2 separate regions of the Homo sapiens genome follow, and region 1 is linked to region 2. The links come from fine-mapping of genetic effects on gene expression. A gene starts in region 2. The other region holds a variant in brackets. All regions are shown on one strand. Distances are from middle to middle. Region 1 has its middle 83 kb from the start of GOSR1. Region 2 holds the start of CPD (carboxypeptidase D).

Evidence for each region. PIP is the estimated chance that this variant, and not a neighbour inherited with it, causes the effect. A credible set is the group of variants that fine-mapping cannot tell apart.
Region 1: its variant is the best candidate, but not a certain one, in a credible set for the expression of CPD in whole blood (TOPMed, PIP 0.76).

The regions. Positions count from the first base shown.
Region 1 is chr17:30,557,656-30,563,026 of GRCh38, reverse strand. It overlaps the pseudogene LOC100420311 and the pseudogene TBC1D29P. Among named protein-coding and RNA genes, the nearest start is that of GOSR1, 83 kb to the right of the region's middle. The variant G/A (reference allele first, on the strand shown) is at 2,506.
Region 2 is chr17:30,376,185-30,381,555 of GRCh38, reverse strand. CPD (carboxypeptidase D) reads right to left here and starts at 2,629. Exons shown (of 21, transcript NM_001304.5): 1 at 1,830-2,629. The coding sequence starts at 2,575. RefSeq lists silencers at 2,154-2,283, 2,584-2,823 and enhancers at 1,801-2,728, 2,874-3,043, 4,314-4,363, 4,614-4,903.

The DNA of each region.
Region 1 (5,371 bases), 180 kb before region 2:
AGAAGCTGAAGAGGAAGACCCAGGTAGTAGGGATGGGGTTCCTGGGCACTCCCCTAGTATTGACTGCCCCAGAAGGTGACTCAGGAAGGGACCTGGTACTGGAGCCCACCTGGGGGTGGCAGGTCCCCATGTTTCCTTGTTAGTTTCTTCATAGAGGCCTGAAGATGATTAAGAACAGTGTCATCCACTGACAAATGGAAGAACATTCCATGCTCATTGATAGGAAGAAACAATATTGTGGAAATGGCCATACTGCCCAAGGTAATTTATAGATTCGATGCCATCCCCATCAAGCTACCAATGACTTTCTTCACAGAATTGGAAAAAACTACTTTAAAGTTCATATGGAACCAAAAAAGGGCCCGCATTGCCAAGACAATCCTAAGCCAAAAGAACAAAGCTGGAAGCATCATGCTACCTGACTTCAAACTGTACTGCAAGGCTATAGTAACAAAAACAGCATGGTACTGGTACCAAAACAGAGATATAGACCAATGGAACAGAACGGAGCCCTCAGAAATAATACCACACATCTACAACCATCTGATCTTTGACAAACTTGACAAAAACAAGAAATGGGGAAAGGATTCCCTATTTAAAAAATGGTGCTGGGAAAACTGGCTAGCCATATGTAGAAAGCTGAAACTGGACCCCTTCCTTACACCTTATACAAAAATTAATTCAAGATGGATTAAAGACTTACATGTTAGACCTAAAACCATAAAAACCCTAGAAGAAAACCTAGGCATTACCATTCAGGACATAGGCATGGGCAAGGACTTCATGTCTAAAACACCAAAAGCAATGGCAACAAAAGCCAAAATTGACAAATAGGATCTCATTAAATTAAAGAGCTTCTGCACAGCAAAATAAACTACCATCAGAGTGAACAGGCAACCTACAGAATGGGAGAAAATTTTTGCAATCTACTCATCTGACAAAGGGCTAATATCCAGAATCTACAAAGAACTCAAACAAATTTACAAGAAAAAAACAACCCCATCAACAAGTGGGTGAAGGATATGGACACTTCTCAAAAGAAGACATTTATGCAGCCAAAAGACACATGAAAATATGCTCATCATCACTGCCCATCAGAGAAATGCAAATCAAAACCACAATGAGATACCATCTCACACCAGTTAGGATGGCGATCATTAAAAAGTCAGGAAACAACAGGTGCTGGAGAGGATGTGGAGAAATAGGAACACTTTTACACTGTTGGTGGGACTGTAAACTAGTTCAACCATTGTGGAAGACAGTGTGGCGATTCTTCAAGGATCTAGAACTAGAAATACCATTTGACCCAGACATCCCATTACTGGGTATATACCCAAAGGATTATAAATCACGCTGCTATAAAGACACATGCACACATATGTTTATTGTGGCACTATTCACAATAGCAAAGTCTTGGAACCAACCCAAATGTCCATCAATGATATACTGGATTAAGAAAATGTGGCACATATACAGCCATAAAAATGTGGCACATATACAGCCATAAAAAAGGATGAGTTCATGTCCTTTGTAGGGACATGGCTGAAGCTGGAAACCATCATTCTCAGCAAACTATTGCAAGGACCAAAAAGCAAACACTGCCTGTTCTCACTCATAGGTGGGAATTGAACAATGAGAACACTTGGACACAGGAAGGGGAACATCACACACCAGGGCCTGTCATGGGGTGGGGGGAGGGGGGAGGGATAGCATTAGGAGATATACCTAATGTAAATGACGAGTTAATGGGTGCAGCACACCAACATGGCACATGTATACATATGTAACAAACCTGCACGTTGTGCACATGTACCCTAGAACTTCAAGTATTAAAAAAAAAAAAAAAAAAAGAACAGTGTCATCATCCAGGGCCCAGGTATGGAAGAACTGGTTTTGAAAACGTGCCCACAGGCCAGACCTGGACATCTTCATGTGGCGCTCTAGGGACAAGGTGGGCATCAGGCCAGGAGAGTTCCCTGGGAAGGGTCAGAGCCCACACCCTGTGACCACTTCAGTCTCCCACTGGGCAGTGCCAGATCCTTTTGTGGCCACCCCAGGGGTCCAGATGTGCACAGAAGGCTGTGGCTGGTTGGGGGGGCCTGGGCAGGGAAGTGCTCACCACACTCCTGACTTTCATCTGGGTCATGTGAGGGATGGGCTCGGTGTCACTGTGCCCTGCCCAGCCCACCTGGCCAGACCTCCCCCTTGGCCAGAACAGGATCATGAGGACAGTGTGAGGAAGCTGCCCTTAGGCTAGTCGGGGTCTGACCCCAGTGCTCCCCAGGCCCCACTGGGCACACGTGGACTTACTCCTTTGAACCTTAAAGGCAATGCTTGTTATCAGCATCAACATCTGTTCCCCTTCCAGCAAATACATATCCCACAGGCACGGGGTGAGCCCGAGAGAGATCTGTGGGGAAAGTAGGCATGGGAGGACCTGGCCCTTCCAGGCTGGGGCTGGTGGCTCGAGCTAGCCCATTGGGGCTTCACTGACCTTCCCCATGA[G/A]GGTCACCCGACCCCTCCAGGAGGCTGGGTCAGACAAGGTCTTGCAGCTCCTTATGGGGGGGCACTCATTTCAGTGCAGAGAGGGGCTTGCCCAGGGCTTGAGGCTCCCCTGAGCCCTCCCTAGTTGGGTCCTGGCCCAGTCTGTCCATGAGGCTGGTCCTGAGCCCTGTCCTCTGCACTGGGATGAGCCCTCTTGGGCAGAGGGTCTTGCTTGTGTGTCCTTTGGGGATCTGCCTGAGCCTCCTGTGGACTGGGGTGAGCTGGACCCCCTGGCTGGGGAAGCAGGGCACTGCAGGGCAAGGAGGGTCCCTGAGCCAGGGTCTCCCTGTGCCTCCTTACCCCATCATTCAGCACCCGGAGAAGCCAGCTGAATGAGGAACCCTGTGTGCATAGACCTTCCTTGTCCTGATGGGAGGAACAGAGGTGCTCAGGGCCCCATGGGCTGCCCTAAAAACCTCCCTCTTCCAGGGCCCTCTGAAGACCCTTCCCCGAGTGCAGAACACTGGGCAGTGTCCCAGGCTCCCCGCAACATCTTCCCCTTCCGGCACTCCCGGTGGACACACTGCCCTTAGCCCTTCTCTGTGGGAGCAGGGCCCCCATCCCTGTGCCTCTGTCTCCTCCAGGGCTGGAAAGGAAACCCAACTCCCAGCCCATGGGGAACCCGACATCCCAGGTCAGGCCCTGGCTGGGACTCAGCCTGTCACCAGCCCCATGAGGGGCTGCAGCCCCCGCTGTTCCTCCAGCCCCCCAGGATGCAGGGCCTCTGGGGAAGAGCCGAGGGGACCATAAACTCACCAGATGCCCCATGGTCTTGGGTTGTGATGTGGGTACCACATGCTCCTGATGGTCTTGGAGCCCCTGAACTGTCCCGCCATTTGGGCTGTGGAATCCTGAGAAGCCCCCAGCCCGTCATGAAATCAGAGCCTTCCCCCAAGATGTGGAGCCATCAGCTGGAAGAGCTGGGCAGCTGCAGAGCCCCCCAGACCCCGAGGCCTCCCACCCTCCCATCTGGTGACCCCACCATGTGGCCTTGGCCCTGGGGAGGAGGGGTGGGAACATCCCCTGGAGCCTGGCTGGAGGTGCCCCTGGAGGCCTCCTGGGCCAGGGTGCCGGGAGGGCAAGCCTGACTTTGAGGCCACGACAGGGGGCGGCCAGAACAGGGTGGGTGCTGGGCTTTGTGGTCGTCTCCTGGAAGTGGGGCTGGGCCAAGGGACACGGGATGGGGAGATGCTGCCATCTGGGCTTGGTACCCTTTCGTGGGTACCAAGGGCAGCTGGAGCCTGAGCAACTGAAGGGCAGGAGGACTCTCAGGTTGCGGAGAGCCAGCTGCACAGAATCAGAGCCGGAGGGCGTGGCTCCAGGACACAGAGGGCAGCCACGGGGAGGATGAGATGCCTTCTGCTGATGGGGATGAAAGGCGTCTGACTTGGGCTCTGGGGGGTCAGTTCCGGGTTCCTTTGGGACCGTCAGCAGAGACGTCCTAAAGGCTCCCAACAAGCTGGCGACACAAGGAAGGTGCCTTGGCTGAAAGCCGAGATCACCTGGCCAGGGTGGCCATCCCCGGGTCTGGCTGCGTGAAGCCCCAGGGGCAGCTGTTCACCTACCCTGCAGGAGTGCCTCTCACTGGCCAGCAGCTGCACCAGTGCCCAGAATGTGTCCTCCTCAGGCAGATAAAGGAGGAACAAGGCAGCGATGTGGCTCAGGTCCCTGCAGTAGCCCACCACCTGCAACAGCCAGAGTCACCGTGGAAGTAAGTCACTTGGGAGGGCTGAGGTCACCTGGGAGGACTCATGTCATCGGAGAGGGCAGAGGTGACTGGGAAGGCTTCCTCTGAAGAAGAGACTTCCTCAGGATGCAAATTCATTTCATGACAAGAGCCATATCCATCGGGCACTTCAGCACCTTGTCCAAAATGTCTCCTGATAGCACCATTCTGTGTGTGATGCTGCCAAGCTCCCGGGCTTTGGGGCAGCCCCAGGAGGAGGGGCTTGTTCCGATAAGTGGTGGTCAGGCCCAGGTGACACCAGGAGTCCAGGCCCTGACTCCTCTGTGTCTCAGCTTGACCCCTTGAGACCACCCCCTTGCTGGAGGTTTATGCCAGCGGTGAGCTGGAATCCTACCTCCTATATCCTGGTGGGTCACAAATACTAACTTTAAAAGAAGCAACGACACTCCCACCAGACACCCACTCCTGTGAATATGGAAATACGGCCTGGGAACCTCACTGCCAGGAATACTCACTGGGTTATACTTCGAATATGCCAGGAGGATGTAGAATAGTTCCTGCTGCCTGGGAAACAGAGAAAGGGGGCTTTGGTTTGTGTTGTGCAGATGCTGTTAGTTTCACTTTGTCTACAAACCCTAACAACAAATCCCATTTCAGGTTCAGATGATTCACCAGATAAGCAGTGAGCTCTTCAGGGACTTTGACTGTTGAAGAAATGTTTCAGTAAAATCCACATCTGTGACATGCAAATAGCCCAGTTGTACAGTGACTTGCCTGATCCTTTTCACTCTGAATGATCTTTTTTTTTTCAGTTTGCACACACGCCAATTCAGTCTTTGGGTGTACAGGTCCTCCATGGTTCTAAACCAATGTGCAGAGTCTCCCGGCTACCACTCCAGCCCCTCCTGGAGCGACTCCTTCATCCTCCAAGTCTCCAGGGTGGCCCCTATGCACCCAGCCTCTCCCCGATCCGTCAGCCCCTGGCCACCCAGACTGCTTCTCAGTCCCTATGGTTTGGCCTTTTCCACAATGGCCTAAGAATGGGAATCCTACTTTGGTAGCTTATTGGGTCTGGCTTCTTTCCCTTAGCAAAATGCACCTAGGATCCACCCACGTTCATGCGGGCATCACTGGCTCGTT
Region 2 (5,371 bases):
ACTCTTTACCATATATGATCACCTACTTTCCCTTTTGATTAATGAGAGTTACATATTTGAAGAACAGATATGATTAGGGTAGTCCACAGCCACAGACCAAAATGACTCTGTATAGCCTCAAGGCGACTTGCACCAAGAAAAAGCTTATTTTCATATTTGGTCACAGCACAACTAATACTGAAAAGAAAAATCCAGGCACAGAATTTACATCCCTGCAAGGATCACAGCATTTTAAAGGTGCAAGGACAGAGCATTTTAAACATTTAAGCAATGCAAACGGTGCATTTGTTGTATCATCTCCAAAAAGCCCTGGCCATCACAGCTCTGTCAATAAGTGTATGTCAAAGTCATATTTCTTACGCAGATGTTCAGAGGTGATGACACGATCGTATTTAAAAGAAAAAAAAATCCTCCCAGAAAGTCTATGTGAAATTATATATCTACAAGAGAGCTTATCAAGAGGAGTAAAGTAAAAGATAGAAGACGAAAAGACTCAGGAACTGTCCTAACACTCAAGAATTTTCTAGATCTTCTATATATGACTGAAATCTTGTAGAAGAAATGATTCCAAGTCCCGCAGGGAAACTTCTTTATCTTAGCAGTCCCTCAGAAATCTTCTTTTAATCCAGATGGAATGATCAGTTATTGCTTCAAAAGCCTTATGAAGATACAAAAATGGGGAAAAGCTGATGCTAGAAAAGGGGAAGAGATGCCTGCTCACTTCAGACACTATGCCATCTGGAGTGAGTTCCCTCTTATTTTATTCCTCTCCTTTTTGCTGAAAATCCTGCCCATCTCTGGAGATAGCTCAAGCTCTACCTCTTCCACAGAGATGGTCCGTGTTATTGCAGCCCACACACATCTTGCCAGTGGGAACAATTCCTGTAAAGTTTAACTGGGTACACCAACATACCTCATAAATATTTATAACATTCTCTTGTTTTATACTAATTTCTTGAGGTCCTCCTTCTTCTACTTTGTAATTTTTTAAACCTCATGCAATGCTTAATAACACTTAAAGTGTGTATTAGAAGTGTGACCATTAGCCATTCTGCCCAGGCTAATAAGGTGCACAAATGACATCACAAACCCTTCAGAGTCTAAAATGAAGCGGCTCACAGATCTGTGCAAGTTCTCCAGCTAAGTCCATATCTTCTTAAGCTGAGTCAGAGGTAAAAATTGGAGAAAAATCAGCTTCTGTCAAATAGGCAAGGGGAAGATCCTGGGAATATCATCTGCCATTTTTGGGCTCCAGTGTCCCTCCGTGGCTAAGAGGACTATCGGGAATCAGATTGCCTAATTCTAAGTCCCAGCCACACTCCTATGTAAATCAGTTAACCAATCTGACCCTCAATTTCCCCGTATGCAAAACTGATGGTGTCTATGACATCAGGTTGTGGCCAAAATAAAGTGAGATACTGCAGTCACAGAAAAAATTAGCACAGCGCCTATAACATTAGGCACTTTTGATATAAGATAACAACATTGACAGCTTATCTATAAAATGTGTGAGCTGACCTAGGTTATCCTTAAGATCTCTTCTCGCTCATATTCTATGCCCCTGTAAGAATAGGGACCAGAAATGTCAGAAAGGAGTGTCCCCTCCAGCCATCCCTTGAACAAATGACAGCCTCTAGGAGGCAATTCTTTGATGATTAGCAGGACGGGAGGCTACGCGGCCTGGGCCCTGTCCCCGTTACAGGGTGTCTCCCTTCACCTTCACCACCGCCACCCCTTATGCCAGCATTGTCTGAGCGCCTACTGGGTGCCGGAACCAGCCTCGGCCCTTGGAGGCTCACACGGACGGGGAGGGGGCAGGCAACACTCACTTGTTCCTGCGGATCCACTCGATGAGGGCGCGCACCTCGGGCACCTCGTCCAGGGCGGGGGGTTCGCCGGTGCTAAACTGGTCGGGAAAGCTTCGGTTGAGGTCGCGGCCGCGACTATTGTCGCGGCCGCTGGCCCCGGACGGGCCGCCGTCGCCGAAGCCACAGTCGCCCTCGCGGGCACGCTCGAAGCCATCGGGGTTGAGGCTGGGCAGCAGGTACACGTCGGTGGTGTTGAGCAGGCGGACCAGGCGCGGGTCCCCGCGGCGGTAGCCGGCCGCCAGCTCGCGGGCCAAGTAGATCAACACCTGGCGCGACACGGTCTCGTCGCCATGCATGTTGCCCACCAGCTTCACCTGGGGCCGGCCGGGCAGCAGCGGCCCCGCAGCGTCGGGCCCGGCAGCGTCAGGCCCCGCGTCGCCCTCAGGGATTAGCGACCCCAGGCCGGCGGTGAGGCGAAGCACCCACAGCGGCCGGCCTTCCACCGAGCGGCCGATGCTAAAGAGGCGGGCCAGGCCGGGGAGGCCCGCGGCCGCCGCCTCCCTCAGCGCCGACTCCAACTCCTCTTCGTGGTAGTAGCGGTCGAACTGGCCCTCGGCCGCCTCGGCGCCCGCGCTCGTAGTTGTGGTAGTCGCCTCCGCCTTCTTGATGTGAGCCGCCCGGGCCGAGCTCCCCAGCAGCAGCAGGCACATGAGCAACAGGAGCCGCCCTAGCCGCCAAGGCGGCCGCTCGTCCCGGCCGCTCGCCATCTTCCAGCAGCGCCGCTAACCCCGGCTCCGCTCCCGCGGCTCAGCGCTCCGGGCGGCGGGGGCCCGCCGGATCCCCTCCTCGCCTAGCAACCCCATCCCGCCCTCTGGCCGCAGCCAATCGCGGACGGGCCTGGTGGAGCGTCACCACCAGGGGGCGGGGCTTCCCTTAAAGCAGCCGATTCCCTCTGGGCGGGCCTGCCCTCCTCCCGTCCGGGACGAGTTTGGTCACTCTCTTCCTTCGCCAAGGTTCTTCTTCTCTTCTCCTCCTCCTTGTTTCGTCTTCTGCGTGTGCTCCGCTTCTCGCTTAGTCTCTTCTTTATGGCTTCTCCCCTAAATTATCACCCATTTTTCTCTGAGAACTCCTGCTAGTTCTCTTCCCATCTTTGTTGCTGCCTTTCTCAGCTGCGCTTTAATGCTTAGAACCGAGAATGGAAAGAATCAAAAGGTTCGAAAGAATCATAAGACTAGAAAAAATCAATAGGTTCGAAAGAATCTTCGTTCGGACACTCAAAGCCTTAGCCCAGTCTCCTAGGCGCCTTGTCTCCGCATCCACCCCGCCTCCGCTGGAGCCCCGCTGTCCGCGTGCGGTTGCACGGGACGCCTCGTGGGGAGGAAGGCTCGCACCTCACTAGGCGGTGCATTCATTTTTAGAGTTGCTTTCTGGAAAGGTGTCTCTTTTATGCCTAGCGGAAATGTGCTACGTAGTAGGCTCCCTTTGTGTTAATGTTGTCTATTTCTTAGGCGTCACCCCACGTTGTTTTACTGCAAATAGGTCCCTGTGTGTGCTGGCCTCGACCCTCATTAGGCAGATTTCATTTCACAGCTCACCGGCCCACTTCTCCCACCTCATCGGAGCAAGTTGTATATTTAACTGTGCCCTGGAATGACATATTTTAAAACAGCAGGTTTGACATTTCTGGAAACACTTGCTTGGCATTCCTGAACTCCTCAGTGTCAGCCAAAGATGGCAATTACAGCGTTTCATCAAGTCTAGAGAAGAGGTCTTTTAAATCACCTTTTATAGGCTTTAGTTTCTTTAGCTTGAAGAAACCCAAAACTATCCCTTAATCGAATGCGAAATTCTACCCATCTAACAACATAATCGCAATAACCGGCATTACCTTCTTTCAGAGCCAGCTATTTCAGGGCCCCTTCCCTGAACTATGACTGAACCCTACTTTAATAGAGTTCATTCATTCGTCAAGTATTTATTGAGCAACTTTTATGTCAAAGCTAGATGCTGGGAAACAATTCATTCTTCTGCCCAGTCAAGAGATTCAGTGTAGTTTGTGATAAATGCTACAACAGAGGGGGTACAGGTGAGGGAAATATCTGAACTTGAGGAGGAGGAAAGGAGGAGAGAAACCATGGAGGATGGGAAGGATCCCAGGCAGGAGGAGAAGCAAGCAAAGAAAGCCGCAGGATTTGAGAACAAATGCCTTGTGTTCTGGGAATTGCATGCAGGGTCAGGATTACTGGTGTGAAGGGGCTCACAGGCCAGTCTTCAGGGAGCACATTTGATCTGGAAGGCCATGGAGAACCACAGACGGGTTTTAAGCTAGTTTAGAAAAATTCCTCTGACAGTAACACGGAAAATTGAATGGGAGGCCTAAGACTTGAGGCTGAGAGACCTGGAAGGAAGCTGCAATCCAGGAAGACATGATGAGACTCTGAATGAGGGCAGTGCCAGTGGAGGTGGAAAGAAGGAAATGGATCTGAAAGACCTTCGGAAAGGAAAGTGGACAGGATCTGGAGACAAAGAGGATTGTAGGCTGACTTCAAGTTACAGCCTAAGCAACTTGCAGGTATTCACTGAGGTACAGGCCAGGAGAAAGCACAGGTTTAGGTGAAGATGATTAATTTAGTATTCTGCCATCAGAGCGAGCACCGTCACTCCGGTCCTGTGAATGGCTCTTCTCCATGCCCCATTTGATCTAGTCTACATTATGCACAGCAGCTGCAACTCATCAGAAACAAAGCCACAACTCTGTACAGAGAGACCGCCCACCACCTCCCGGGAGTGCTCAACTATTACACCATGCACTTTTACAGTAATCCAAGTCAAAGAAGCCCCAGAGGACATGTTAACTTCTAATCAAATATTTCCTTTTCTACCACGTTCACTCTCCTTTGAAACCTCTTCCAGCCCCTTCACTCCTGCAGCCTCGCCTAGAGAGGCAGCCTGAAATGTAAATAAACAAGCATGAGGGTGGTGAAATAATATGGGAATGTAACTTGAGCCGGTGTCCTCTCAGAAATCCCCAGGCCTTCCGTGGGCCTCTTTCAGGTCTGCAGCCTTCTTCCTTAGCAGGTACACAGTTGCTTATGGTTATAAGTGAAACCCAAAGCTCTGGACCTCAGTCACTTTTGTGTTTACCTACAGGTTTGTGTTTACCTACAGCTGAATACCTCCAATTGTGTCTGAGAAGTCTTGAACCTTATGACAGGTGTTTCTTTCCTCTTTCCCCAAGGAAAAGGTGTGGCCTTACAAATGGAAGGGACTTGGGAAAGGCTTGAAGGTAAAAAGGCTTCCTGTTCACAGAAGCAGAGTGGCAATGACTTGGATTTTTTTTTTTAATTTTTGTATTTGATACATGATAATTGTACATATTTATGGGATACATTTGATATTTTGATACATGCATACAATATATTATGATCAAACCAGGACATTCTGGATAGCCATCACCTCATTTAGCTCAAAGAGATTTGAAATGTTTCTAGCACCAAGAAATGACAAAGAATTGACGTGGATTTTTTAAAAACAGGGCAAAAGCTTTTAGATGACCAGCCTGA